Linked DNA regions of Homo sapiens. The protein of the gene in region 2 purifies or fractionates together with the protein of the main gene of each other region. This does not show direct contact. Each region holds a gene or a part of one and is shown on either strand. Other genes may lie near its edges.

Region 1 (4,397 bases), on a different chromosome or scaffold from region 2:
GAACAATTAGGGAAGCCTTACAGTTACAGCCTTAATTGCACACTAGAAACTTAACATTATAAAAAGGATACTGGCATCTGCTAAATGTTTAACCTGATTCTAATCATGAGGAAACAGTCAAATATAGGTTGTAGAACACTCTACAAGAAAACTGGCTTTAGGCCGGGCGTGGTGGCTCACGCCTGTAATCCCAGCACTTTGAGAGGCCAAGCCGGGTGGGGATCACCTGAAGTTGGGAGTTTGAGACCAGCCTGACCAACAAGGAGAAACCTCGTTTCTACTAAAAATACAAAATTAGCCGGGCGTGGTGGCACATGCCTGTAATCCCAGCTACTCGGGAGGCTGAGGCAGGAGAATTGCTTGAACCCAGGAGGTGGAGGTTGCGGTGAGCCGAGATCGTGCCAGTGCACTCCAGCCTGGGCAACAAGAGCGAAACTCTGTCTCAAAAAAAGAAAAAAAAAAAAAAAAGAAAAAGAAAACTGGCTTGAACTCTTTAAAAATATCAATTTTTGAAAGACAGCAAATGGCAGAGAGACTATTCTAAAGAAACAGGATAACCAAATGCAATATACAATCCTTGATGGATTGGGTCCTGAATCAGGAAGATAGCTATAAAGGACATTTTAGGGACAACTGGTGAAATCTGAATACGGATCACATATTAAATAACTGTATCACTGTTGAATTTCTCAGATATAATAAAGGCATTGAGGTTATGGAGAAATACCTGGTTCTTAGGAAATACATGCTGAACTCCTGAATGGGTGAAGCAGTCTCAAACTTACTTTCCAATGATTCATGGGAAAAAATATGTAAATGTGTGTATTTGTAGAGAGAGGGTAAGAGAATTACGCAAATGTAATACAATTTACGTGAAAGGCATACGTTTGTTGCATTATTCTATCTACTTTTCTGTAAGCATCAAATTTTTTGAAATAAAAAATAAGGGAAAAGGGATAATATTTCACTGTGGTAGAATCAAAAGATTTGATGAAACAACAATGGAAACAAAAGAATTAAAACAGGCCGGGGGCAGTGGTTCACGCTCGTAATCCCAGCACTTCGGGAGGCCAAGGCAGGTGGATCACCTAAGGTCAGGAGTTCGAGACCAGCCTGGTCAACATGGTGAAACCCCGTCTCTACTAAAAATACAAAAGTCAGCCGGGTGTGGTGGTAGGTGCCTGTAATCCCAGCTACTCAGGAGGCTGAGGCAGGAGAATCACTTGAACCCAGGAGGTAGAGGTTGCAGTGAGCCGAGATAGCACCACTGCACTCCAGCCTGGGTGACAAGAGCCAACCTCTGTCTTGAAAACAAAAAACAAAAGAATTGAAACAACAGCTTGGGAAAGTGACATGCATCAGCTGGGAGTGAAACTTGCAGCAGTGGCCTCAGTGCTTGAATACAAGCCCCAGGCCAGTCACTGGCCACAGCAGGTCAGCTGGGGCTGGCAGGAAGGGCCAGAGTAGATGGGTGTTATTCTTCCCTCAGATCACTAAGGGACCAACATATTTTTCTATCTTAATTTGGCTTTCCAAGTCAGCTTTCCACGCAGCAGCAAAGATTTTTCACTGCAGACTCCTAAATCAAGTTTCTAATACAAATGAGATTTCCCACAGGCCACTGGACTCTGTCCTGTGCAAAGAGCAATCCCTCCCACCCCAGCTCTACCCCCACAATTAGTTTTTCTCAGTTTGGGTGTAACTGTTGTTAGAAACCAAGAATTCAATTTCAGAGAAAAAAGATGACGTAAAGTAAGTTGAAGTCTATATGGTTAAATGACTTGAAAATGACCATATAAACTCATGAGGCTCTTTTTTTGAGGTAGGGTCTTGCCCTGTCGCCCAGGCTGGCGTGCAGTGGTGCGACCTTGGCTCACTGCAACCTCTGCTTCCCGGGTTAAAGCAATCCTCCCACCTCAGCCTCCCACATCGTCTGGGACTACAGACACATGCTACCATACCTGGCTAATTTTTTTGTACTTTTAGTAGAGATGGGGATTCGCCATGTTGGCCAGGCTGGTCTCAAACTCCTGGGCTCAAGTGATCTGCCCACCTCGGCCTCCCAAAGTGCTGGGATTACAGGCGTGAGCCACCACACCCAGCTCTCATGAGGTTTTTTGTTTGTTTAAAATATATCCTAGCTCTGTCCACTAAAAAGGCCTGGAAACAATAACAAACTAGTAACAATGTACAGTTCTAGTGCCCAGATTTTGATGTCTAAATACCAGTTCCCACTAAAAGGAACCCCAGGACTACTTGGAGAAATGGCTGACTCCAGGCCTGGGGCAGGAAATACGTAAGATGAGCCCAAGACATCTTGTGTCAGACAGCAGGAAGCTATCAAACAGACAGGTGGAAAGGAGCCAGCTTAGAGGAACTCCCACCGCCCAAAGAAGGCACACTTGGAGCATCAAGAGAAACAATGGCTGCAATTTATTGAAATACATGTAATATATTACAACCATGAATTCATAATGATGCTTTTCTGGCAGGACAGTGGCTCACACCTGTAATCCTAGCACTTTGGGAGGCCGAGGTGAGAGGATCACTTGAGCCCAGGATTTTGAGATCAGTTTGGCCAACATGGCAAAACCCCATCTCTACAAAAAATTTAAAAATTAGCTGGGCAGCTACTCAGGAGGCTGAGGCCAGAGAATCACTTGAACCAGGAGGTGGAGGTTGCAGTGAGCCGAGATTGCGCCACTGCACCCCAGCCGGGGCAACAAGAGTAAAACTCCATCTCAAAAAGAAAGAAAGAAAAAAAATTAGCTCGGCATGGTGGTATGTGCCTGTGGTCCCAGCTACTCAGGAGGCTGAGGCGGAAGGATTGCTTGAGCACAGGAGGCCCAGGCTGCAGTGAGCCATGCTCATGACACATGACAATGCACTCCAACCTGGAGAGAAGAGCAAAACTTCATCTCAAAAAAAATAAAAAAACAAAAAAAAAACGGGCTGGGCGAAATGACTCACGCCTGTTATCTCAGCACTTTGGAATCCCTAGGTGGGCAGATCACTTGAGGTCAGGAGATCGAGGCCAGCCTGGCCAACATGGTGAAACCCCGTCTCTACTATAAATACAAAACAAATTAGCCAAGCATAATGGGGCATGCCTGTAGTCCCAGCTACTTGGGAGGCAGAGGCAGGAGAATCTCTTCAACCCAGGAGACAGAGGCTGCAGTGAGCCGAGATTGCGCCACTGCAGTCCAGTGTGGGTGACTGAGCGAGACTCCATCTCAAAAACACACACACACAGAAAAAAAAAAAGAAATTTAAAAACATGATACTTTTCTAAAAAGCTAAAAAACTGGGAAAAGCATGTCATCACTAGCTAGTGAACCAACTCCTTATTCTGAAAACATGTAAATAAAAGACAAGAATGAAGCATTGATCCTAACTCCATTTCAAACCCAATCGCCCTAGTTGTTAAGGGAACGCTCTTCTTTACAGAATTCCAGCTAACAAACATAGAAGGAATGACAAAATTTGAGAATTACTCTAAACTGCCTAATGATACTAATTAAAGCAATGATCAGCAGTGGACATTGAAAGCACTGGAAAAAGACTGATGGGAAACTCAGCTATTTGCAGGATGACAAAGTACACCCCTGTAGATTGTTGCTGATCAGAAGAGGAAAAACTGAACTTCACAAAGGAGAGATTAGGCTGTAACTGCTTGAACCCACACACTAATCTTAGCATCACTGTGAGTGGGACAACCTGTACCTCCTGATACGATGCAATATGAAATACGAGATATACAACATCATCTATGTAGTACTCTCACCAAATATGCTCAACCTAAATCTAATACAAGGCTTTAGATCTAACTTCAGTTTAGAGAAATTACTAGGGATAGAGAAACAAGATCAAAAAACAAACAAACAAACCACCATGAGAAAGCAATAGAACAAATCCAGAAAGTGGGACACTATTTAGAACAAATGATCCAGCCTCTCAACGAGTGAATAAGAAACAATAGGGGAAGACACAACTGTTCTGGATTAAAACAGATTTAAGAGATTGCACAACTCAGCTGGGCATGGTGGCTCACGCCTGTAATCTCAACACTTTGGGAGGCTGAGGTGGGTGGATCACTTGAGGTCAGGAGTTCGAGACCAGCCTGGGCAACATAGTGAAACACCCCCCCATCTCTACTAAAAATACAAAAATTAGCCAGGCATGGTGGCACATGCCTGTAATCCCAGTTACTCAGGAGGCTGAGGCAGGAGAATCGCTCAAACCCAGGAGGCGGAGGTTGCAGTGAACCGAGATCCCACCATTGCACTCCAGCCTGGGCAACAAGAGCAAAACTCCATCTTAAAAAAAAAAAAAAAAAAAGGATAATATTCTCTTAAGTAACTACATTACTATTGTCATGCCTAACAAAAAATTACATT
Region 2 (4,397 bases):
AAAGAGAGAAACAACCTATTTGTTTAAGTCAGTTATAATTCACATTCCTGAACTAGCATTTTCTGAATTTGTCTCACAAGTAAAATGTAGCCCAGTAATTCCAAGACTGGTCTGTACATTAGAATCACCTGGAGACTCGGCTGGGCATGGTGACTCATGCCTGTAATCCCAGCACTTTGGGAGGCCAAGGCAGGCGGATCACCTGAGGTCAGGAGTTTCAGACCAGCCTGGCCAACAAGGCGAAACCCCGTTTCCACTAAAAGTACAAAAATTAGCCAGGCATGGTGGTGGGCGCCTGTAATCCCAGCTACTCAGGAGGCTGAGGCAGGAGAATAGCTTAAACCTGGGAGGCAGAGTGTAGAAAGTAAAAAGTTTCCTCTTCAAAGTTTTTCTTCCTGTTAAAGAATAAATCATAACTGTTAGAAATAATAATTTCTTTTAAAGACTAACTTTCTTCATGCCTCCTTGCTTTGTGCTAGTAACTCTTTGTTAAGCCCTATCCTACGTAACTATTGGACATGCTCACGGGCATGTTCGAGCTCACAGCCTATTCCCCTTATTTAAAAATGTTATTGCTTCCTTAAACCTTTCATAAGCAACTTCTTTGTTCTTCCCTACACTTACCTATTTAGGCTATTAGCATATTGGGTATCAGTTTAAGAGTGTGAGGTCCCACTCCAGCCAATGGATGCAGGACACAGCATTAAGGACAACCCAAATGCGTAAGGGATAAATATGTCTGCTTTTCCTTTGTCAAGTGTGCTCTCGCCATTGTTCCATCTGCAATTGGGGACCCTTTCTGCAGAAAGTAAAAATGGCCTTGCTGATAAATCTTTTGCCTCCGTGCTGACTTTTCTTCACAACACCACTTATCTAACAATTTTGGTATTTCTAACACAGAGGTTGCAGTGAGCCGAGATTGTGCCACTGCACTCCAGCCTGGGTGACAAGAGACTCTGTCTCACAAAAAAAAAAAAAAAAAAAAAGGAATCACCTGGAGACTGCTAAAAATTCCAAAGCCCAGGTCACACCCAAGACCAATTAAATCAAACTCTGGAGGTGGGGCACAGGCACAGATACTTTGTTTGAAGCTCCCCTAAATGATTTCAAAGAACGAAGCTGTCATTAAAAATCAACACTAACACTTTATAATTATGAAACTGAAGTGACAGATCATATCTTATTTAGGGATACTTTCTAAATAAGGTTTTCATAATTACTTTTAAAGTGTGAACTACACTACCCTAAAACACCACGTCTAAAATGTTTTCAACTTGACTCAATTTTATCTTTCTGGAGATTTTAAGCATAAAAATCCAGAATGACTTTGGATTCCTTAATGAGGCCAGTACCCAAATGTAGGTTCAAGGTTCAAGAGGGTGTTGCCAGATTTGCAACTATTATGTAACAGTGTAAGTACTAACTGCAGTGTTTTAACAAGTAAACAAAGAGAACTCAGGACTAACTCCAAGTCCCAGTTTTATATATAAGACAGAATTTTATTTAACTCAAAGAAAGTTAATGTAAACCTATCAAACAAAGCCACTGTACACAATATTTATAGGTCACAAAAATCTGTGGACCAGTTACTACAAAAAAAATATATATATATGTATATATACATATATATGTGTATATATATGTATATATGTATATATACATATATATGTGTATATATACGTATATATATACGTATATATGTGTATATATATGTATATATATACGTATATATGTGTATATATATATACACACACAACCAAATTCCTTGTCAAATACTATATAATCACATTGCTTCCATTTGGTTGGTTGGTTGGTTTTGAGACAGAGTCTTGCTGTGTCACCCAGGCTGCAGCGCAGTGGCACGATCTCAGCTCACTGCAACCTCTGCCTCCCAGGTTCCAGCAATTCTCCTGCCTCAGCCTCCCGAGTAGCTGGGATTGCAGGCATGCGTCACCACACCCGGCTTATTTTTGTATTTTTAGTAGAGACGAGGTTTCTCCATGTTGGCCAGGCTAGTCTTGAACTCCCAACCTCAGGTGATCCGCCCACCTGGGCCTCCCAAAGTGCTGGGATGACAGGTGTGAGCCACCGCACCCAGCCCATTCGTTCTAATTCAAATTCAGCTGTCACTTAAAATTTGATATTAGCTTTTATACCTCAAAATGTAATTGAGAATTCAGTGTCCCCAGGTAATTCTGAATTTATGATCTTTCTTTTCTATTGGTTCCAAAACTGCCATCTGGTGGAGAGGAAGAGGGCATGCACCTCTCCGCTCCTTTTTTTTTTTGAGCCTGAGTCTCTCTCTGTCGCCCAGGCTGGAGTGCAGTGGTGCAATCTCGGCTCACTGCAGGCTCTGCCTTCCGGGTTCACGCCATTCTCCTGCCTCAGTCTCCTGAGTAGCTGGGACTACAGGTGCCTGCCACCATGCCCGGCTAATTTTTTGTATTTTTAGTAGAAACGGGGTTTCACCATGTTAGCCAGCATGGTCATGATCTCCTGACTTCTTTCTTGATCCGCCCGCCTCAGCCTCCCAAAGTGCTGAAATTACAGGCATGAGCCACTGTGCCCGGCCTGCTACTTCTAATTTCTTAATTAACTTTATCAGGCTTATTTCCTTCAACTGATGTCAACTTGGCTTTTTAGAACAGTTATTCTCAAAGTATGGTTCTTGGACAAGTACCATCAACATCCCCTGGAAACTGACTAGAAACTGAAATTCTCTGCCCCACCCCAGACCTACTGAACAAGAAACTGTGGGGCCCAGAAATCTGTGTTTAACAAACCCTCCAGGTGGTTATGATGCGTGAAGTTTAAATAAACAACTGTCTTAGATGAGAACTTTATCACTCAGGAACTTTTTGCAATTATCCAATAAAACAAACATGGCCTCACGAAATTAAACAACTACATGAAACTGCTTAAGCAGGAAGAAGACATCACAAAGTAGTGCTTAGTGAAAATTATTATCCCAGAAGTAGGCAAGGTGTGAACAGAGCAGAAAATCAAGTCCAGGAGGCCAATAATTTAGGCATGGGGTGATGAAGAACAGCAGATGTGGAAACAGAAGGGAGTGATATTATTAAGAGTTTTTATAAAGTAAAAACTCAATGGAAAGGAATGTCAAAAATGACTTTAAGATTTCAAGCCAGGACAACCAGGAGAATATAGAAAAGACAGGGAAAGAAGCTAGCTGGTTTGCAGGACGAAATACAAATTCAATTTTTTGAATTTGAATTTGTACTGACATAAGCAGAAATAGTCAACAGAAGAAAGAGACTAGAGGTTGAAAGAAAAGTTAGAACTAAAGGTATATCTTATGCCACATGCATGTACAATCACTGAGACACTGGAATCTCTCAGCTTTCTGTAAGGAATAAATGAGAAGGCTGCAGTTGAAAACTAATTGCCAGAAAGATGCCAACTGTAACTGTGGTATTGGTCAGCAGCATTTTATTTTTGTATTCTATTTATTTATTTATTTTTAGAGACAGGGTCTCACTCTGTCACCCAGGCTGGAGTGCAGTGGTATGATACATGGGCTCAAATGCAGCCTCAATCTCCTGGACTCAAGCCTCCTGAACAGCTAAGACTACAGGCGCACACCACCACACCTGGCTGATTTTTAAATTTTTTGTAGAGAGACAGTCTATGTTGCCCAGGCTGGTCTCAAATTCATGGGCTGTGATCCTCCAGCCTCAGCCACCCAAAGTGCTGGCATTACAGACTTGAGTCACCATGCCCAGCCGAGCAGTTTTAAAACTACTAACATTATCTGGATGGAATGGTAGAGATTAAAAAGAAGAAAAACAGAAAAAAACTACTAACATTTAAAAATCAAGACATTTCACCTAAAACTGCACTTTTTCCAGGTTTTCCAGAAAAATCAGTAATAATGGAAACCCTGGGTCTATATTCTATAAGGGCAACAATGGCTGGGGCTGAGAAGCTGCCTCCTCTCTAGAGCACTCTCTCCAGTTCACCAGTCCCCCATGCTGCCATCTAGCCAGCATCTTTCAATGCTTCCTTCTCAGCCTCTGCATTCAGGCTCATGATTCCTAACACAGAAAACAACCTAAAAGAGCAACAAAGATTGAGCCTTTGATCAACTAAGAAACAACTAACTAGAAGTAAAAGAGAAGACAGGCAAAGAGCAAGAACCAAAACAATACAGTTCAGCAGAGGATGGAGGAGATGGAAAAGGCAATGAGGCCTATTAACAACCTAAAAGTACCCTCTTCCTGTTATTTCTATTTTTAGAGACTAGGTTTTTCCATGTTGCCCAGGCTAGAGGGCAGTGGCACAATCATAGTTCACTGTAAACTTGAACTCTGTGGCTCAAGTGATCCTCCCACCTCAGCCTCCCAAGCTGGAAGGATAGGCGTATGCCACCATACCCA
Region 3 (4,397 bases), on a different chromosome or scaffold from region 2:
CAGCAAAACCTAACTTATCCTGGATAATACAAGCAAGCTAATGGCATTCATTTCAGCACTAGAAATTAATCAGAGTTTAATTTCAGAAAAACAAAATGGTACAGATAAGTAGTATAGCTCAGTATAATAATTTAACCTCTCTATATGATAGTTCTCTTGCTCGCCGAGTTTGATGGCTCCTGCCTGTAATCCTAGCACTTTGGGAGACCAAGGTAAGAGAATTGCTTGAGGACAAGAGTTCAAGACCAGCCTGGGCAACATAACGAGATCCCATCTCTACAAAAAGATTAAAAAATTAGCCAGGCATTGTGGTGTACACCTGTAGTCCCAGCTACCCGGGATGCTGAGGTGGGAGGATCACTTGAGCCCATAGGTTCAAGGCTCTAGTGAGCTATGATCACATGGCTTCACTCCAGCCTGAGTGACAGAGCAAGATCCTGTCTAAAAATAAACAAACAAAAAGGATAGTTCTCTTGCCTACAAAATGGAATAATAGCATCTACCTCATAGAACAGTAATAGGGATTAATTAAGTGAATGTCTATTAAGTACTTAGGATAATATTTACGGTATTTGAAGCTTTCAATAAATGGTAGTAAATTACTATCATTAATAATGCATTAGACACATTTACACTACATATGTAATTTTACTTTCATCTCTTACTCCTTATTCATTTTAATTTATGGTCAATTTTTTCAATTCATAATATCTTTATTAAGAAGTACCATATCCTGTCAGAACCATATAAAAAAATAAAAAGAAGTACCATCCAAGGCACTAGAAATGAAGACAAATAAGATCTACCATCAAGGTATTCTCCTTACCTATGATTCTCCTTTCTTCTGCAATAGACCCACAACCAAGCAAACTTTAAAATCATAAACACAATGTTTTATTATATTATAATATAAATCAACTATGCAATATTATAAATATTGTACCAATTGAAGAGGTGATTACTTTTTAATTTAAAAACACTTTATATGTTATGGGTCTGTGTCTTATTCAAAGTCAAGATAGTAAAGTTGTTTAGGTCCAATTCATCAAAGGCAATTAATGTTATGGCAAAAAACAAAACTTGTACCCACATTCCCACTGTTCCTAACGCAGTGCCCTATAAACAGGAGGCACTCAGTGAACAAAATTATAGGTAAATCAGAGATCAGCAGATCCAATCCATTTATCTTACAAATTAGTACAATGAGATCTAGAGGGTTAGGCAACTTGCCCAAAAGTATGATGTGATTTAGTGGCAGGGCTGATCCTAGAACCCAAACTTTGAAAATGTTTTAAAAGTCTAAATTCTCTAAAGCACAAAGTTCCTGCAGTATGCTGACAGAGGAATATAAACAAGTCAGTGAAAAACCTAAAGTTAATTTTTATTGAAATTAGATTTTAGCATTAGCTAGTAAGAAATTTAAAACTCAGCTATCAGAAAGACAGTGTTAGATTTACTATTGTTATCAAGAGAAGAAGGTACTTCCAAAAACCTAAAAGGGTAAATTCATTACCATATTTCCCCCCAACACTTTATCAACACTTAAAATAGCATAGAAAGAAAAATAGAAATAGTTTCATATGCTTCTTTTTATGTACAGAATCTTGTGTGAAAAGAATGATTTTAAGCAAGAAAAAAGGTTAATTCCTAGGCCACAAATCTATTAAAGTATTGATTATTTTAATCCTATTGATTTTAAAAAAGTGAAGGGGTTAATTAAAGCCATGTACATTAGGAAACTGCAAGATAAAAATAATGTTTATCATTTATTGTTTACTAACTGTTATGCACTGTGCTAAATATGCACTTTACACATACCACCTCTTTTTACAACAAACTTATGGTATAGGTAATATAATTATCTCCATTTTGCTGATTATGAAAATAGGGGCTGCCTCTGAGTAACTTACTCAGGTAGTGGCAGAAACAGAACTTGCTCTCAAACCTGTTTGCCTCTAAATGGTATGCTTTAGGTTTTGTTGTAGTTGTTTTTTGTTTTTTGTAGAGACAGGGTCTCACTATGTTGCCCAACCTGGTCTCTAGCTCCTGCCCTCAAGTGATCCTCCTAGCCTCTCAAAATGCTAGGATTACAGGTGTGAGCCACCACACCCAGCACTAAAAGCTGTGCTTTTAACCACCCTCCTGTTCAAGCTCTATCAAGTTTCTGACCCTCTATAATTTAGATCAAGGTCAATCCATCATATCTAAGGGGAAGGCTACATGATCTCTAAGGCCCCTTCTAAAAATGATTCTGTGTCACCAAACACATAAATCAGTTCTGAATTCACACAATATTTCTGACAGGACACTCCAGGCCTAAGGGAAAGTCCATCAATAGATGAACAGATAAGAAGAGGAGAAAGGGGAAGAAAAATTTAAAGGAGGAGGAGAAAGATCTTTATCAACATGCCCTACAAGGTGCCTAACATAGCTAGACATAACATTTTACTAGACATCAGGGCCACTGTGACAAAGGTGGGAAAGGGGAACCTAGAACAGCAATTGAAAGTGGAACTATAAAGGATGTACATAAATTTAAATAGCTTAGCCCACTGATGTGATCCCCTCACAGCAAATGAGGAAGGAGCTGCAGAAGTCAGTGACCATGAGCTCAATGCTGGGCCAACACACAGACTTGTAACAGAAACAATGATCAGCAGTTAAATAGGAATAGCTGGGTACTAAGTTTTCAGAAGAGGCATTACCACTATTGTCATGCATTTGGATGAGAGTGTATTTTCAGGACAGAGTTGTGAAGGAACTAGCACTTGTTCCATCAAGTTGTTTAAACTCCTACCATGTTTTATGCACCATCCATGTGGCTTTCATTTGTTACGACACTGAACTCTGACAACAACCTTGGTGGATGTGATGATTAATTTTATATGCCAACTTTATAGGCCATGGTGCCCGGCTATTTAGTCAAATATCATTCTAGATGTTTTTGTGAAGGTATTTTTTGGATGAGATTAACATTTATATCAGCGGACTTTAAATCAGTGGACTTTACCCTCCATAATTTGGGTGGGCCTTATCTAATCAGTTTAAGGCCTTAATAGAACAAAGTTTGACTTCCCCTCACTTTGGGAGGCCAAGGTGGGTGGATCACTTGAGGTCAGGAATTCAAGACCAGCCTGGCCAACATGGTAAAACCCTGTCTGTATTTTAAAAACTGCAAAAATTAGCCAGGCGTGGTGGCGGGCACCTGTAATCCTAGCTACTCGGGAGGCTAAGGCAGGGGAATCACTTGAACCCAGGAGGCAGATGTTGCAGTGAGCCGAGATCTCACCACTGCACCCCAGCCTGGGCAACAGAGCGAGACTCCAACTCAAAAAAAAAAAAAAAAAAAAAAAAGACTGACTTCCCCTAAGCAAGAAGAAATTCTGCCAGCAGAATGCCTGGGCATCCAAACTGCAACTCTTCCCTGGGTTTCCAGCCTCCAACCTACCCTGAAGATTTTGGACTTACTAAGCCTCCACAATTGCATGAGCCAATTCCTTAATAAAAATCTCTCTCATAGAGAGAGAAACACACAGACACACACCCTAATACAATAGATATTGCTCCCAATTTTACCACTGAGAAAAATGATGGCCTGACAGGACCCATTCTCCCTCTTCACTACATCACACACTAAAATGTGTGATTTGGGACTCACATTCTAGCCTGAGGGGCTCAGGTGGGAGGTACAAGGTAATAAGCATGCAACATTGTAACCACAAGCCACATATTCCAGAGAGCCCTTTATGACACTGATACCACACATACTACACATGTACCCAGAGCCTCGATGTGCCCAAGTGATGTACTATCCTCTCTCTGGTCTCCTAATTCAGTTATTTCAGGTAAAAGAAATCAAATAGTCCTACCTAACTCAATATTTGAAGACCTTGAAAAAGGAGGAAAAAATAATTAGTAAAGAATTAAAGTAAAAGATAAAAAGAAAAATAAAAAATGATTTGTGACAATTAAATGATGGTAGCCTTTGCTTTGTTTAGGTTCTTTTTGAATAATCATGCATTCACTCTTTCAACAACTATTTATTTTGTGCTTTATACTTTTTTATAGGCTCTTCTAGGTATTGTAGAGTACTAACGAGCTGGAGGGACACATACAATATAGTAAATGTGCAGGATGAAAAAAGACCAACTAAATTTCCTTAAAGAAGTCAAAGATTCGCAGAAGAGGTGAGACATTTCTGCTGGAATAGAATTATGAGTTTAAATAGTGGGGAAGAGGGATGGTATTCCAGACAGAATTTCTGACACAGTAAAAGTCACTTGAGTCTGTTAGGTTGCTAAAAGTGGGAGCTGGGATGGGGAATTATGGCAGAATATAAAGTTGGAACGACCAGCTAGGGTTACATAGTAAGGAACAATGGATTCCCATGCCAAGGT
Region 4 (4,397 bases), on a different chromosome or scaffold from region 2:
GACTTGATATATAATATGGTTTAAATTTCTGTCCTTGCCCAAATCTCATATCAAATTGTAATTTTCAATGGTGGAAGAGGGGCCTTGTGGGAGGTGACTGGATCACAAGGGCAGACTTCCCTTGCTGTTCCTGTGACAGAGAGTGAGTTCTCACAAGATCTGGTTGTTTAAAAATATGTAACACCTCCCCCTTCTCTCTTCTTCCTTCTCCGGCCATGAAAGACATGTCTGCTTCCCCTTTGACTTCTATCATACTTGTAAGTCTCCTGAGGCCTCCCCAGACAAGTTTCCTGTACAACCTGCAGAACTGCCAGTCAATTAAACCTCTTTTCTTTATGAATTACCCAGTCTCAGGTAGTTCTTTATAGCAATGTGAGAACAGACTAATAGTTTTAAAAATCAGTATAATAGCAAATCATGTTGTGACACTTGCATCAAGAGGAATCCACTGCCAAACCCTAGTTTTTCCCATTAATACAACTATTCTTTTTTTTTTTTTTAATTTATTTTTTTATTGATAATTCTTGGGTGTTTCTCACAGAGGGGGATTTGGCAGGGTCATGGGACAATAGTGGAGGGAAGGTCAGCAGATAAACAAGTGAACAAAGGTCTCTGGTTTTCCTAGGCAGAGGACCCTGCGGCCTTCCGCAGTGTTTGTCCCTGATTACTTGAGATTAGGGAGTGGTGATGACTCTTAACGAGCATGCTGCCTTCAAGCATCTGTTTAGCAAAGCACATCTTGCACCACCCTTAATCCATTTAACCCTGAGTGGACACAGCACACGTTTCAGAGAGCACAGGGTTGGGGGTAAGGTCACAGACCAACAAGATCCCAAGGCAGAAGAATTTTTCTTAGTGCAGAACAAAATGAAAAGTCTCCCATGTCTACTTCTTTCTACACAGACACGGCAACCATCCGATTTCTCAATCTTCTCCCCACCTTTCCCGCCTTTCTATTCCACAAAGCCGCCATTGTCATCCTGGCCCATTCTCAATGAACTGTTGGGCACACCTCCCAGACGGGGTGGTGGCCAGGCAGAGGGGCTCCTCACTTCCCAGTAGGGGCGGCCGGGCAGAGGCGCCCCTCACCTCCCGGACGGGGCGGCTGGCCGGGCAGGGGGCTGACCCCTCCACCTCCCTCCCAGACGGGGCAGCTGGCCAGGCTGGGGGCTGACCCCCCCACCTCCCTCCCGGACGGGGCGGCTGGCCGGGTGGGGGGCTGACCCCCCCACCTCCCTCCCGGACGGGGCGGCTGGCCGGGCAGAGGGGCTCCTCACTTCCCAGTAGGGGCGGCCGGGCAGAGGCGCCCCTCACCTCCCAGACGGGGCGGCTGGCCAGGTGGGGGGGCTGACCCCCCCCCCCGGACGGGGTGGCTGGCCGGGCGGGGGGCTGACCCCCCCCACCTCCCTCCCGGACGGGGCGGCTGGCCGGGCAGAGGGGCTCCTCACTTCCCAGTAGGGGCGGCCGGGCAGAGGCGCCCCTCACCTCCCAGACGGGGCAGCTGGCCGGGCAGGGGGCTGACCCCCCCACCTCCCTCCCGGACGGGGCGGCTGGCCGGGCAGAGGGGCTCCTCACTTCCCAGTAGGGGCGGCCGGGCAGAGGCGCCCCTCACCTCCCAGACGGGGCGGCTGGCCAGGTGGGGGGGCTGACCCCCCCCCCCGGACGGGGTGGCTGGCCGGGCGGGGGGCTGACCCCCCCCACCTCCCTCCCGGACGGGGCGGCTGGCCGGGCAGAGGGGCTCCTCACTTCCCAGTAGGGGCGGCCGGGCAGAGGCGCCCCTCACCTCCCAGACGGGGCAGCTGGCCGGGCAGGGGGCTGACCCCCCCACCTCCCTCCCGGACGGGGCGGCTGGCCGGGCGGGGGGCTGACCCCCCCACCTCCCTCCCGGACGGGGCGGCTGGCCGGGCGGGGGGGCTGACCCCCCCCACCTCCCTCCCCGACGGGGCGGCTGGCCGGGCGGGGGGCTGACCCCCCCACCTCCCTCCCCGACGGGGCGGCTGGCCGGGCGGAGACGCTCCTCACTTCCCAGATGGGGGGGCTGCCGGGCGGAGACGCTCCTCACTTCCCAGATGGGGTGGCTGCCGGGTGGAGAGGCTCCTCACTTCTCAGACGGGGCAGCTGCCGGGCGGAGGGGCTTCCTCACTTCTCAGACGGGGTGGTTGCCAGGCAGAGGGTCTCCTCACTTCTCAGACGGGGCGGCCGGACAGAGACGCTCCTCACCTCCCAGACGGGGTTGCGGCCGGGCAGAGGCGCTCCTCACATCCCAGATGGGGAGGCGGGGCAGAGGCGCTCCCCACATCTCAGACGATGGGCGGCCGGGCAGAGACGCTCCTCACTTCCTAGATGTGATGGCAGCCGGGAAGAGGCGCCGCTCCTCACTTCCTAGATGGGATGGCGGCCAGGCGGAGACGCTCCTCACTTTCCAGACTAGGCAGCCAGGCAGAGGGGCTCCTCACATCCCAGACGATGCGCGGCCAGGCAGAGACACTCCTCACTTCCCAGATGGGGTGGCGGCCGGGCAGAGGCTGCAATCTCGGCACTTTGGGAGGCCAAGGCAGACGGCTGGGAGGTGGAGGTTGCAGCGAGCCGAGATCACGCCACTGCACTCCAGCCTGGGCACCATTGAGCACTGAGTGAACCAGACTCCGTCTGCAATCCCGGCACCTCGGGAGGCCGAGGCTGGCGGATCACTCGCGGTTAGGGGCTGGAGACCTGCCCGGCCAACACAGCGAAACCCCGTCTCCACCAAAACCAGTCAGGCGTGGCGGCGCGTGCCTGCAATCGCAGGCACTCGGCAGGCTGAGGCAGGAGAATCAGGCAGGGAGGTTGCAGTGAGCCGAGATGGCGGCAGTACAGTCCAGCTTCGGCTCCGCATGAGAGGGAGACCGTGGAAAGAGAGGGAGACCGTGGAAAGAGAGGGACACCGTGGGGAGAGGGAGAGGAAGAGCAATACAACTATTCTTAACCCTTGATTTAAATCTTTTGGGGAAGGGGATGTATGAATGTTCTTCACCTCAGACCTGTTTGCTAAAGGTGAATAGACATTCCTGAATAAAACAGAGCTTTCTACTCATCACGGCTCTTCTCAGCCCTCTCCACTATGGAAAATAAGCCATAAAGTCATCCAGGAGAGAAACCTACAAACAACTCTTCACTTAGCAAGAACAGACACCGGGCCACAGATAATTGCTCTTATTTTACAATACATTTAAACAAATATGATTAAAATACTTGCATTATAGCTAAAATGCTATAGAAAATTACTGTTATTCTCTGAAAAATAAATTAAATGAAATTGACAACAACGGTATTCAACCTCCTAAAAATCCTTGTCTTTGAAGATCCAGATTATAAAGATCACATGCTTAACACATTTGGGGCCAAGATGATGTCTGCTTAGAAAGCTCTTCATGACTCCATGTTTACACTGGAAAAAAGAAGTCAAGGATTTCACTGCATCCACACTAACACTTAGCTCCTAGTGCTACTCATGAAATTTAAGGTAAACATACAAAAGTTCCTAAAAAAGACTGAGTAGCCACGCAGTATACTGACAGCGTGACTTGTCCAAAATAGTTATATACAAGTTGTTTGTCCATAAACCAGCAGAACTTTAATACAATATATTTCCTTTAGAGAATATGTGCCATCAAGGTGAAAATAGGATCAAACTGAAAAGATAGTTCAGCTTAAGTTGATTGCAAACTGCGACCATGTCTTACCTTTTCAGGTCAACAGTCGTCACACTAAATACAACTCCTTTGAGCCAAAGAATCATGAAGAGCCTCTGGGAAAAGGGGCAGTTTCCTATGCTTTCACCATCACTGCCAGCCTGGAAAACAGAATTAAACATTAAAAACAAGGTCAAAGTGATGATACTCAACATGACATAACTTTTTCTGAATTTTAATCAAGAGTACAAGAAGCCAGGAAAAGTTACATTGTGGAAGGAAGAGTAGAAATTTGGGTCTTTATTATTTTGTTCTTTCATTAGCCTTTTTTTTTTTTTTTCTTTTTTTGAGACAGGGTCTCCTTCTGTCACCCAGGCTGGAGTGCAGTGGTGCGATCTCAGCTCACTGCAACCTTCACCTCCCATCTTAGCCTCCCAAGCAGCTGGAGCTACAGGCACGTACCACCATCCCGGCTAATTTTTAATAGTTTTAGTAGAGACAGGGTTTCACCATGTTATCCAGGTTGGTCTTGAACTCCTGGGCTCAAGTGATCCACCTGCCTCAGCCTCCTAAAGTGCTGGGATTACAGGCATGAGCCACTGCACCCAGCTAGCGCTAGCCTCTTTCTTTTCTTAAAAATGATCAGTCTAGGGCCAGGCGTGGTGGCACACACCTGTAATCCCAGCACTTTGGGAGGCTGAGGCAGGTGGATCACACGGTCAGGAG
Region 5 (3,802 bases), on a different chromosome or scaffold from region 2:
GTCAGGAGCCCACTTTGAAACCAACCACAGCCAGCAGGATGGCCCAGACCATTTGTGCTTTACTCTTGGAACTGGGGATGAAATCACCCTCGCTCCAGTCATCTGAGGGTGGGAGTGTGTGTGTAGGGTGGGGGAGTAGGGAGGAGGGAGGTGGTGGACTCCTGACCCAATCAGAGCTCTGCCTGTGGAAGATGGGAGTCGGGATGGTGGGGTGACCACCAGCTGCATCTACTGCACCTGTCCTGAGACCCTAGCTGCCCCTCCCATCAAGATCCACCCCTGGGTCTGCTGTTTCATTTCTTCCAAGGTAATGAAGTGCTGTTATGACTACCCTTTAGCAATGTGAATGCTCATAGAAGTCTTCATCAGACGTCACATTGGCTTCAGGTAAAGCTTACTAAGGACTCTGGGAACCTGAACCCAGAGTCAGTGATGTGGTGTTGAGAGTAGGGATTTCAGCCTAGGAACGCAAGCCACTGAGAGCCAACAGAGAGCTCTGGGCACAAGAAGAATGATATTTTAAGGAATTCTTTAAATCATACCTGGACTGTCACTGTTGATCTACCTCCATGGATGACAATGCAGATGGGAAATATGAGACACTGAAAGAGCATCAGTATAATTTTTTACCTAGCCCAGGTATTATGAAAGAATGTTTATTTAGTCTTGCAAAAAAAAAAAAATTGGTTTTAGGATGGCTGGTTCACAAACTTTGTGCTTTTCGTTTTCTTCTTCCTCTTTTCCATTTGCTTTTGATTTTTTTGTTTTGTTTTGCTTTGTTTGAGAGGGAGTCTCGCTCTGTCGGTGTCACTCAGGCTGGAGTGCAGTGGTGCAATCTCAGCTCACTGCAGCCTCCACCTCCCAGGTTCAAGCAATTCTCCTGCCTCAGCCTCCAAAGTAGCTGGGATTACAGTCGAATCACTTGAGGTCAGGAGTTCGAGGCCAGCCTGGCCAACATGGTGACACCCCCATCTCTACTAAAATACAAAAATTATCCAGGCATGCTTTGATTTTTAAAAAGAATGAACATTTTCCTTTATAATGGGAAAATAAATTAACCTTTATGTGGAAAAAAAAAAGGTACTTCATACTTGTCATCTAAAACAGCACAGGAAATCCCCACCTCAAATAAGAAGTTAGATGACCACTTTTGTAATATTTGAAAATAAACCAACTTTATTTGAATCAGTCAATACCAATCAAGACTGGAACACAAATTGGTAATTGGTTCAGATTCATGAGGAAAACACTCAGCTGTATCTTCATTAAAAGGCATTTTACATTTATTAAGGCTTGAAAGCAAGTCCTGTTATTCATCACCATAGTTAAAGGTCTCGAGAAAATCAAGTAACTATCATTTGGAGTGTCTTTGTAAAATGAAACACTTGTTCTTTTACAAAAGCTAAGCATCTTTTGTTAAGCTAGTTAACTCCCCAGCTTATAAAATAGGACAACGAGGTGGCCAGGAAAGTAAGACAAATTCAAACATCAGCTGGATAATTTATATTTTAAATATATGTATAGTCAATATTGTGAAATCTCTAACTCTACATAAAATACTTCAGATGACTGGATCCTTAAAAGTACATTTTACCAAAAACAGATTGCTTCTATAGAAACACAGAATAGCCCAAACCTTATATTGAGGCAACGTATTTTATTTATTTTTGGTTGCAAGAAAGGAATTGGATCTATTTCTTTAACGTTAAATGAAATTATGCACACTTTGGATCATACATAATTATGAATCGAAAGTATCCTGACACTAAGCTGGGAGATGCATACTGACAAAGGGGAAGAATGTGTGTTGATGAGGAGGGCACATGTTGCTTGATTTGAATGATAAAGAGAAATGGATAGAAGACAATGGGGCTGTGTGCAGCAGGTCCTGTTCGCTTAAGTTTTCCTAACATCAGAATCAGGGTGCTTCACATGCACATGTCTTTCTCTGATGCTTTCTTAAGATTCTCCTTAATGTCATTTAAAAAAATAAGAAAGTGATCCCTTGGGAATCATTGTACTTAGTTTTAACCATGAGTTAACATTTCCTTTTTCCAAGGAGGATGACACCAGCATCTTGATTCACCGTGCAGTTGAGATGGCCCCTGGCCAGTGGGAATTGAGGCGAGTCACAGAAGTACTTACCAAATACTCACCTGCTGCTTCTAGTTTAATTTAATTTTAGACACACACTCTCACAGTGATGCTAAACTCTTTACAAGATAGACCCGCAGCTTCCTGCCTCTGCCTCTCTCTTAGTTCTATTTGTCCAGGCCTTGCTGATTTCTGGGACTCTCATATGGTCAAGATCTATTTCAGGCATGACCTATCTTATGACAGTTCTAAGATGCTTGGTATTGTCTGTCTGTGGAGTGGCCATGGGGCACAGAACTGTGAAGAGCTTCTGTTGTTTCATTTGATAAGGGCCTGGAAAGTCAGCCTGGGAAAACTCGCACTTGGTGTGGCCTTTTTCTGATAAGATCAAGACTTCACTGGCCCCACCAGCACAAGAAGGGAATGCTGAGGACAGGGCCATTTCCCAAGATAAAACTAGTTTGGGATCGTGTGGCCAAATAAGCTGATGGACTCTGTTTCCGACATTTCAGCTCATTTGCTTAGTGCTAGGTCACTCTACCTCTCGTTTAAAAGAATATAGCTATGCTCACATCTGTGACTCTGAATTTATCAAGCATTTGACTTTCTTTATCAGGAGATGAAGAAACTGTGCTTTGGATCCATCATGATTTTACTTATCCAGCTTACTTTTTACAGTTATTAAAATCTTACTCAATACCTTCTCTCTGGGCCAAACTCAGAAGCAGGCATTGCTGACTAGACAGTGAATTCAACTCAGTCATTCTGAGTTTGACTCTTGCTTCTGCCTTCGTCTCCCACTACCCTGCTTCCCCCACCCCCAATAGTGCTGTGCAAGTCAAAGAAGATAAATAAATACAAAATAAAATAAGATCTCAACACAAATACATCCCCTTTCTGTGCCACCAAAATGCTTTCTGAGCGATTTGTATTCATTCAGGACCAATGAAAAGGAAGCCTCCTACCCTATAGCTGTATAGTTGTGGGGTCCCAACTGCAGACCCTCCCGTGCTCCCTGAGTTGTTCTTGGGACACCTAAGGACCTCACCACACTGTTGCTGAGACATGATGTGCTGCACATATGATAAGAAGGCCAGACAGGCTGAAGCATCTGGAGAAAGATCTCTTTTGAAACAAAAAAAAAAAGGAAGGTAATATTAATATTATTGTTACTTTAATATACCATAATAAATCTAGTCATAAGACACCATAACTAACTCTTAGTCCATAGTCACTTGCATTATATGATAATCCAGTGCTGAAATATAAAGAAATTTCTGAATTAAGTACCCAGAAGTGCCTTCCTTCTGTACTCCTCCCTCTCTTTCAAATGGCTATCATTGATCATATAACACCCCCACCTCCTTGTCTTAATATATTTATCTCTGTAAAACTAGCTCAACCACAGAAGGGACATCTAGAAACAGCAATATTGATTTGGTTTGGCCTGTTTGTTTTTAAGGACTTTCCAGTTGCTGAATTCTGAACATCCAATCCGAGTCCTTGGAATTCTGCAGACTTCTCTGGGGTGGAGTGGCCTCACCGGAGGCTTGGTTCTGTTTTCTCTGTGGCAATTGGCTATGATTCACAGATGTGTTTCCAGAACAGCCCAACTGTGGGTCTCAGGGAAGTAAACTGCCTCTTAGGTCATCCTGCCTGTGCTGTAAATTCGGGGAAGGATTTCTGAGTACAGCAGGATTTCACACTA
Region 6 (4,397 bases), on a different chromosome or scaffold from region 2:
AGGAGTGGGTAGAGAGAGCCCTTTGGAGAGTTTCCGTGGCAGAGCCAGCAATGGGACACCTGGTGGGGACATGGAGTCAAGGAAAGCCCCAAGCTTGGCCACAGTACAGCTGCGATGCCGGCGGAACCATGTGAAGGCCAGGGGCAGCTGCAGGCACAAAGTCTGAGGGACACCAAGCACTCATTGCAGAGGGATGGCCGCGGCAGCATGAGGCAGTATGCCTTCCTAACGAATGCAGGAAAGCCAGAGAAGGCTTTAAAATGGGGGTGTGTCATGGGGTTCTCACTGGCAGAGAAGTTCTGGAAACGAGACCGCAAAAGCAAAGGTGCACAGTGGGGACAGCCACAGCCAACAGCCTGACATGTGACACAGCCTGACACATGCAGCCAGACCCACATTGTCCATACGGTGGCCACAGCTATGTGTGACAACTTAAATTTAAAATTTAAATTAGCTAGGAGAGGCCGGCACAGTGGCTCATGCCTGTAATCCCATGAGCCTGTAATCCCAACACTTTGGGAGGCTGAGGCGGGTGGATCACTTGAGGTCAGGAGTTTGAGACCAGCCTGGCCGACGCAGTGAAACCCTGCCTCTACTAAGAATACAAAGATTAGCCAGGTGTGGTGGTGTGCGCTGGTAGTCCCAGCTACTCAGGAGGCTGAGGCACGAGAATCACTTGAACCTGGGAGGCAAGGTTGCAGTGAGCCGAGATCGCACCACGGCACTCGAGCCTGGGCAACAAAGTGAGACTCAGTCTCAAAAAAAACCAAAAACAACAAAAACAAAACAAAATAAAACAAAAACCTTAGCTGGGCGTGTTGGCGGTCACCTATAAACCCAGCTACTTGGGAGGCTGAGGGAGGAGAATCACTTGAACCTGGGAGGCGGAGGTTGCAGTGAGCCAAGACTAGGTCACTGCACTCCAGCCTTTATGACAGGGCGAGACTCCATCTCAAAAAAAAAAAAAAAAAAGTAGCCTGGAGTGGTGGCGCACGCTTGTAGTCCCAACTACTTGGGAGGCCTAGGCAGGAGAATCGCTCGAACCTGGGAGGTGGAGGTTGCAGTGAGCTGAGATCGTACTACTACATTCCAGCCTGGGTGACAGAGTGAGTGAGACTTCGTCTCGAAAAAATTAAATAAATAGGCTGAGTGCGGTTGTTCATGCCTGTAATCCCAGCACTTTGGGAGGCCGAGGTGGGCAGATCACTTGAGGTCAGGAGTTCAAGACCAGCCTGGCCAACATGGCAAAACCCCATTTCTACTACAAGTACAAAAAAAATTAGCCAGGCATGGTGGCGCACACCTGTAGTCCCAGCTACTCAAGAGGCTGAGGCGGGAGAATTGCTTGAACCTAGGAGGCGAAGGTTGCAGTGAGCCAAGACTGCGCAACTGCAGTCCAGCCTGGGCGACAGAGAGACTCCGTCTCAAAATAAATAATGAATTAATTAATTAATATATTAGCTAGGACAAAAGCTCAGCCCTTCTGTCTCACCGGCCATGTCCTGAGTGTTTGCTAGGCACACACGACTCACGCCACCCCTCTGAATAGCCCAGGTCACAGAATATTTCTGCCTTCCCAGAAAGCCCCATTGCTTTCTGGGTGTGGCTGGCAGGGAATGGAGGGCTGGTGCTCAGTAGGTGCACTCCGAGAGGGAGGCAGACAGGCAGCGGGAGAGGAAACAGAGTTTCAATAAAGGGCCCAAGTCAGACTTGCTTGGGACGATGAAGAATCATGTAAGTTTCTGAATGTTTGACTGAGTAGTGGACACTGGCCAGGACCCAAAGCCTCTTCTCTTCTGGGGAGCCCCCACCCCTGTTACGGATCCAAAAGTCAGACGTTCTGTCTTCGCTCCTGACAGGCAGGCTGTGAACACAAACAAGGCATGGCCTGCCAAAGCCGCTAACTCTAGGAAGAAGCAAAGGACGATGTGCATGGTGGTGGGGGGTGCTGCAGCCAGCCTCTCTGCCGGCGGCCCATGCCTGGAACTGCTTCTTCAGCATGCCTGCGAATGCACCACCCACCTGACGTTTCTGCAGTTGGCTGCTTAGCTGCACGAGCTGCTCCGGCACCTGTCCTCCTGCTGAGATACGGCTGAGCACGAGTGGTCACACTGGGAATGGCAGAGGCAGACAGAAAACAGACATTTGAAGAGAACCTTAGCTGGGCTGGCAGTGAGGCAGGTGTGGGAGTCAGAGAGGGAGACCCTGGGTGTGGCTGGCAGGGAATGGAGGGCTAGTGCTCTGTAGGTGCACTCCGAGAGGGAGGCAGACAGGCAGCGGGAGAGGAAACATACGCATTTAACAGATGGCAGAACTTCTAGCTGGAAGGCCCTGAGAACTCAGCAAAGATGCAGGCTGCAGGACAGGAGAGGGCAGGGCTGGGGACAAAGGTCAGGAATGCTCCACACACCGTCACCTGGCTCACTCCTCACCACTCGGCCTCCACTTGCTCCCCTGCTCAGAGTACCCCTTGCCAGCCCACCAGAAGAGCTCCCCTCCACCCCGACACCCTCCCCTGCCCTGCTTTGAGTCGTAGCGCTCCTCATCGCAGAACTGCGCCTCCAAAGTGCCTTCCTGACACACAGGAAGCGCCACATTCACGTGTTAGATAAATGAGAGGACTGAGAAGTCGCCCTTGGAAAGATGACAGCTGTTGCCAAGAAAGGGGCGGAATCTAGGGGCGGCAGAGGTTCAGGAGCCACAGCTGTGGGGAAGGCCGGAGCCAGAGTCTAGTGGCACAGGAACCAAACAGACAGTTTCAATAAAGGGCCCACAGGGTTCACTATGATGAGTGGCTTAAAAATCTACTGCTCAACAGGAGATGGGGCGACCACTGATGGAGTAAGGGGTAGCAGGACCCAAAGGAAAGGTAAAGGCATTAAACTGCGAAAAGGAAGGCCACGCCTTTCTCTGAGAGGCATCAGGGGAAGAGAAATAAGGTTCCTTCTAGCAAGACATGCACAGGACAGCAAGCCTGGGCCAAGTCTCAGCCCACCTGCAGAGCACCCACACTAACCTGACACTCAGCAGAATCACGCTTCCACCGTCCACACCAGACCACCACACACGAGGCTGCTGCCAAATGGGTCAGGCATGGTGGTGGCAGACACCCTTGAAGACCTGGCGTTTTCTAGGTAAGAGAAAAAAAAAATTAGAGCTATTTCTAAGATTAGAGGCCTTCGTAGCATGAAAAATAATGGGAGCAGCTTACAGCCAGTCTCAAATAAGAACGTGTCTGATGAGGATGTAGACACTCCCCAGGGTTCTGAATGGCTTAGCAGGCCTCTGACCTTCTCAGCAGGAGCTGACATTTTAGCTGAACTCTTGCACCTCTGAGGCACTCTAAACCAGTATTTGATCAAGGATCTCTGTATTTATTTTTTTAGAGATAGGGTCTTGAGGCCAGCTCAGTGGCTCATGCTTGTAATCCCAACACTTCGGGAGGCCAAGGCAGGAGGATTGCTTCAGCCCATGAGTTTGAGACCAGCCTGGGTAACACAGTGAGACCCTGTCTCTACAAAAAATTTTTAAAAAAAATTAGCCAGGCCGGGCGCGGTGGCTCACGCCTGTAACCCCGGCACTTTGGGAGGCCGAGGTGGGCAGATCAGGAGGTCAGGAGATCGAGACCATCCTGGCTAACATGGTGAAACCCCATCTCTACTAAAAATACAAAAAAAATCAGCCAGGCATGGTGACAGGCGCCTATAGTCCCAGCTACTCGGGAGGCTGAGGCAGGAGAATGGCGTGAACCTGAGACGCAGAGCTTGCAGTGAGCCAAGATCACGGCACTGCACTCCAGCCTGGGCGACACAGCAAGACTCCATCTCAAAAAAAAAAAAAAAAAAAAAAATTAGCCGGGCATGCCTCTAGTCCAAGTTACTTGGGGGACTAAGTTGGGAGGTCACTTCAGCCTGGGAGGTCAAGGCTGCAAGTTCCCATCTTTCCTTTTTTTTTTTTTTTTTTTTTTTTGAGACCAAGTTTCACTCTTGTCACCCAGGCTGGAGTGCAATGGCGTGATCTCAGCTCACTGCAACCTCTGCCTCCCAGGTTTAAGTGATTCTCCTGCCTCAGCCTCCTGAGTAGCTGGGATTACAGGTGTCTGCCACCACACCTGGCTAATTTTTGTATTTTAGTAGAGACAGAGTTTCACCATGTTGGCCAGGCTGGTCTCGAACTCCCGACCTCAGGTGATCCACCTACCTCAGCCTCCCTAAGTGCTAGGATTACAGGCATGAGCCACTGCATCCAGCCAAGTCCCCATCTTTCTTACTCTTGGTTATAAGGGGGTGCTCTGGCAGCATCTACATCACACCAACTTACTTTTCAGGCCATAGGCCTGGCAGTTTCCTTCTCAAGCAGGAGAGGGAAACCAGAGGCAACGCTGACAAGCCACTTCC
Region 7 (4,397 bases), on a different chromosome or scaffold from region 2:
AAAATACAAAAATTAGCCAAGTGTGGTGGTGGGCATCTGTAATCCCAGCTACTTGGGAGGCTGAGGCAGGAGAATTGCTTGAACCTGGGAGGCGGAGGTTGCAGTGAGCCAAGATTGTGCCACCGCACCCCAGCCTGTGCGACAGAGTGAGACTCTGTCTCAAAAAAAAAAAAAAAATTAATGGTATCCCCCAAAGTCAGACAGCTAATAACTGGCTTAGCTGGGATTTGAACACAGGCAATTTGGTTCCAGATCTGCTTTACTTTTCTTGTTCAGTGCTGTATTCATAGTGCCTAAAATAATGTCTGCTACAGACCGGGCAGAGTGGCTCACACCTGTAATCCCAGTGCTTTGGGAGGCTGAGGTGGGTGGATCACAAGGTCAGGAGTTCAAGACCAGCCTGGCCAACATGGTGAAACCCTGTCTCTACTAAAAAACAAAAAATTATCCAGGCATGGTGGCAGGCACCTGTAGTCCCAGCTATTCGGGAGGCTGAGGCAGGAGAAGTGCTTGAACCCAGGAGGCGGAGGTTGCAGTGAGCTAAGACCATGCCACAGCACTCCAGCCTGGGCAACAGAGCGAGACTGTGTCTCAAAAAAAAAAAAAATAATAATAATAATAGTAATAATAATGTCTGCTACAAAGAACGTGCTCAACAACATTTTTTGTAAATGAATAACTATTACAGAAAAAATACGTGCAATGGGAACACACTGGGGTCACACTACCCAGCACTGAGGGAGGGGTGGTGGTAGTTGGAGGAGATTTTCTGGAGGAGCTCATTTTTTAAAGTGAGACATGACAGATGATTAGGAGTTAGTCAGATGAAAGGGGAGAGATGGGGAAGAGGGTCACACACTCAGGAAATGGCATATACAAAGGCTTAGACTTCCCCATGCTCTTTCCTCAAAACTTTGTTGCTTTGAATTATTCAGGAAGAAGCAGCTTTGGCAAAATTTTGTTAACTTTTAAATCTTTTTTAGGGAACCTTCTGAGAAGCACTGATTATGACCTCACAGATGCTGCTGGCAGTCCCTTCCTTGCAGAATCCTTGCTCCTGAATATCTTTAAGAAAATTTCTTAAAGGAAAAGACAAAAAATTTAACTCAAAAGTTACCTGTTTGCCATAGAAATTGGTGTCTCCCCTGAAGGAGGATCGAGAGCCGGTGAATGAGAACATTGGCAAAGGCACTGGAATGGGGACATTCACTCCCACCTAAAACAGAACAAATCCGTGTCATATCCTAAGGACAAAGGAACTCTCCATTTAGAAACACAAAGGCATCAGAGACCAGTTTTAAATACCCACCTTCTACCCTATCCTCTACCCCATGAACTTTCATTCCTGAGGAAGAAATGGGGCAATGTGGGAGGTCATGGGGGCAATCTTAAACCAATGACTCACCATTATTTACTGTTTCCTCTTAGGAAATAGTAAATGGATATAAGAATCTCTTAAAAATTCTGTTCACGAACCTGTCCAACATCCACCAAGTGGGCATATTTCCGAGCAGTGGCTCCATTGGTGGTGAAGATGGCAGTTCCATTTCCATATGGGTTGTTATTTACAATCTGGATGGCTTCATCCAATGTTTCTGTCTCCAGAACCACAAGAACTGGACCAAAAATCTCCTCTTTGTAACAGGTCATATTTGGCTGCCAGGAGTGATGCATCCAGAAAAGAAGTCAGCTTTTTGGATTCTGAGTATTTTATGCTTATTTGGTACTTTCACTTACTACACATCATTTACGTGGACAACTTTCATATTACTAATCTCTTTTCATTTCAAATCACCTATTTAAAAAAAAAGTCCTCTCTCAAGTGTATTCCGTCTTCCAAGTTACCAATCATATAAACAACTTGGAATTCCTATCAACAATAACCACACTTCCTTTAAGGGACTGTATCTTTAGTTCATGACCCATCATCAGCTGCCTTTTTAATACCTGAACGACTAGTTTCATCCAATTGTTATCAAAAAGTTACATGAAAATTTATTTTTTATAAATCCAATCTATAGTAAATATACCAGGATAATTTTTCTCTTTACAGAAACCCCATGCTGTTTTCTGTAACATAAATAATCCATTCTTATTCACTCCTTTGCCTCCCAAATATGTCTGTATGTTTATATTTTGATATCAGGTCGCAGACACTCAAAACATCCTTCACCATGCAATTAATGTTTGTTGCTGATAAACGGATTTTTCTGTATGGTTCTGTGGCAAGAGATTTCATAATTTCTACTGCACTTACATTCAACACTTGATGATTCACTATTATAGTAAGGATATATGAATTTCAAAAAATGCCTCATAACCTCAATTTTTAAGTCATGTTAGCTGAGAGACTTTCAAAGTTTTGATAAATAAAAATTGACAAGTCAATTATTTTTGTCACTTTCAATAAATATTGGGTGGTTGATATATTGATTGAGACACTGCAGTAGCCATAAGCTAGGCAGCAAGAGGGAGAGGGGAGAGAAAACATTAACAAACCAGTATAAGATAAGATAGCGTTTGGCAAACTATAGCCTGTGGGCCAAATGTGGCTTCCTGCCTGTTTTTGTACAGCCCCAAGTTAAAAATGGTTTTTGCATTTTTAAATGGTTGAAAAAAAATTAATCATATATAAAATGATATGAAATTCAAATATCAGTGTCCATAAATAACATTTTTTTTGGAACACAGCCACACAATGTTTATAGCTGATCTCACACTACAATGTCAGAGTTTAGTTGCAACAGACACTATATCCCTGCAAAGCTGGAAATATCTATCCCTTTATGGAAAGTCTGCAGACTGCTGGTATAGTGGAAAGAGTTTGGTTGGGAGTTAGAAGGAGAGGCTCATTCAGACTCCAGATAAAATAATTGATCAATCCTGGCAAGAGATAAGGTCTTAGTCATTAAGTATTTTCATTAATAAATTAGAGGGATGAGATTCTATAGCCTTTAAGGTGCCTTCAGCTCTCATATTTGTGAAGTGAAAGTTGTTCACCTTGACATTCGAGATGATGGTTGGTCCAACAAAGTTGCCATTTTCATAGCCTTTCACTTTAATTTTTCGTCCATCAAGAAGGATGGAAGCTCCCTCCTTTGTTCCACTATCAATCAGATTACAGACTCGCTCTTTGGCCTGGGGAGTGATCAGAGGGCCAAGATCAGCTCCAGGCTGATCTCCTGTAAAACAACACAGAAGAATTTAAGGTCCTCATTAACATAAATTATGACTGCTGCCAGGGCTCATGCCTGTAATCCCAAAGCTTTAGGAGGCCAAGGCAGGAGGACTGCTTGAGCCCAGGAGTTCCAGACCAGCCTGGGCAACAAAGTGAGACTTCATATTTACAAAAAATAAAAAAATTAGCCAGGTGGTGGCCCGCACCTGTGGTCCAAGCTGCTCAGGAGGCTGAGGCAGGAGGATCACTTGAGCCCAACAGTTTGAGGCTGCCATGAGCTAGGATGGTGCCACTGCACTCCAGCTTGGGTAACAGACAGCCTGTGCTTTAAAAAAAAAGACTGCTAACAAGATGACTCCAAATGACAAGTACAGTATAAAGAGAGGAAATGGCAAGAATAGACATGATTGTTCCCACTGGCCAAGGCCAGTGACAGAACCCAAGAGCTTAATGCCACAGATGCAAAATCTAAGGGGGCAAGTCAGGTGATTGATTACCTGCATTGACTCTCAGGTTTTTGGCATGCTCCACCAGCTCTGGCAGCCACTTCTTGGCTTCTCCCACAAGGACTGCTGTTGAAAGAGCCATGCAGCGCTGACCAGCAGCTCCAAATGCTGCCCCAACCAGCTGGTTCAGGGTATTTTCCTTATTGGCATCTGGCATGACTACCCCATGGTTCTTGGCTCCCTAAAAAAAAATGCAGAAAGCACATGAGTCTTCCTTGGCCAAATACAACTAAGCTAAGAAATTAAGCAGTGGACCAGGTGTGGTGGCTAATGCCTGTAATCCCAGCACTTTGGAAGGCTGAGGTGAGAAGGATAACTTGAGGTCAGGAGTTCAAGACCAGCCTAGGCAACATAGTGAAACACCATCTCTACAAAAAATACAAAAAATTAGCCAGGCATAATGGCACCAGTCTGTGGTCCCAGCTACTTGGGAAGCTGAGGTAGGGGGACCACTTGATCCTGGGAGGCGGAGGTTGCAGTGAGCCAAGATCACACCATTGTACTCCAGACTGGGTGACAGAGTGAGACCCCTGTCTCAAAACAAACAAACAAACAAAAAACAGGAATTTGTTGTCTGCTGGGTTTTTTAGTTATATGAAGAGCAATGTTAAAAAAAAAAAAAAAAAGAACTTACAGCCTTACAGCAATAATGCCAGTAACCAGCTGAAAGGCAAAACAGAAAGTAGACCTCTTGATGTAGAATTTCAAGAAAG

The links.
Region 1: the proteins of HIBCH (region 2) and ACOT9 fractionate together in Homo sapiens (co-fractionation; one large-scale study listed by BioGRID). This does not show direct contact.
Region 3: the proteins of HIBCH (region 2) and PRCP fractionate together in Homo sapiens (co-fractionation; one large-scale study listed by BioGRID). This does not show direct contact.
Region 4: the proteins of HIBCH (region 2) and CLIC4 fractionate together in Homo sapiens (co-fractionation; one large-scale study listed by BioGRID). This does not show direct contact.
Region 5: the proteins of HIBCH (region 2) and CLIC5 fractionate together in Homo sapiens (co-fractionation; one large-scale study listed by BioGRID). This does not show direct contact.
Region 6: the proteins of HIBCH (region 2) and FLCN purify together in Homo sapiens (affinity purification with mass spectrometry; one large-scale study listed by BioGRID and IntAct). This does not show direct contact.
Region 7: the proteins of HIBCH (region 2) and ALDH6A1 fractionate together in Homo sapiens (co-fractionation; one large-scale study listed by BioGRID). This does not show direct contact.

What each region holds. Positions count from the first base shown.
Region 1 is NC_000023.11:23,708,087-23,712,483, forward strand, and holds part of ACOT9 (acyl-coenzyme A thioesterase 9, mitochondrial isoform a precursor), read right to left. Parts: intron 1-4,397. UniProt on the Homo sapiens protein: Mitochondrial acyl-CoA thioesterase. Catalyzes the hydrolysis of acyl-CoAs into free fatty acids and coenzyme A (CoA), regulating their respective intracellular levels. Regulates both mitochondrial lipid and amino acid metabolism.
Region 2 is NC_000002.12:190,312,679-190,317,075, forward strand, and holds part of HIBCH (3-hydroxyisobutyryl-CoA hydrolase, mitochondrial isoform 1 precursor), read right to left. Parts: intron 1-4,397. UniProt on the Homo sapiens protein: Hydrolyzes 3-hydroxyisobutyryl-CoA (HIBYL-CoA), a saline catabolite. Has high activity toward isobutyryl-CoA. Could be an isobutyryl-CoA dehydrogenase that functions in valine catabolism. Also hydrolyzes 3-hydroxypropanoyl-CoA.
Region 3 is NC_000011.10:82,893,349-82,897,745, forward strand, and holds part of PRCP (lysosomal Pro-X carboxypeptidase isoform 1 preproprotein), read right to left. Parts: intron 1-4,397. UniProt on the Homo sapiens protein: Cleaves C-terminal amino acids linked to proline in peptides such as angiotensin II, III and des-Arg9-bradykinin. This cleavage occurs at acidic pH, but enzymatic activity is retained with some substrates at neutral pH.
Region 4 is NC_000001.11:24,797,177-24,801,573, reverse strand, and holds part of CLIC4 (chloride intracellular channel protein 4), read right to left. Parts: intron 3,833-4,397; coding exon 3,723-3,832; intron 1-3,722. UniProt on the Homo sapiens protein: In the soluble state, catalyzes glutaredoxin-like thiol disulfide exchange reactions with reduced glutathione as electron donor. Can insert into membranes and form voltage-dependent multi-ion conductive channels.
Region 5 is NC_000006.12:45,897,303-45,901,104, forward strand, and holds the end of CLIC5 (chloride intracellular channel protein 5), read right to left. Parts: 3' UTR 1,154-3,802; downstream 1-1,153. UniProt on the Homo sapiens protein: In the soluble state, catalyzes glutaredoxin-like thiol disulfide exchange reactions with reduced glutathione as electron donor. Can insert into membranes and form non-selective ion channels almost equally permeable to Na(+), K(+) and Cl(-).
Region 6 is NC_000017.11:17,229,772-17,234,168, forward strand, and holds part of FLCN (folliculin), read right to left. Parts: intron 3,131-4,397; 5' UTR 3,017-3,130; intron 2,112-3,016; 5' UTR 2,023-2,111; intron 60-2,022; exon of another isoform or gene 1-59. UniProt on the Homo sapiens protein: Multi-functional protein, involved in both the cellular response to amino acid availability and in the regulation of glycolysis.
Region 7 is NC_000014.9:74,063,705-74,068,101, forward strand, and holds part of ALDH6A1 (methylmalonate-semialdehyde/malonate-semialdehyde dehydrogenase [acylating], mitochondrial isoform 1 precursor), read right to left. Parts: intron 3,866-4,397; coding exon 3,676-3,865; intron 3,183-3,675; coding exon 3,001-3,182; intron 2,389-3,000; exon of another isoform or gene 1,657-2,388; coding exon 1,477-1,656; exon of another isoform or gene 1,217-1,476; coding exon 1,118-1,216; exon of another isoform or gene 1,085-1,117; coding exon of another isoform or gene 984-1,084; intron 1-983. UniProt on the Homo sapiens protein: Malonate and methylmalonate semialdehyde dehydrogenase involved in the catabolism of valine, thymine, and compounds catabolized by way of beta-alanine, including uracil and cytidine.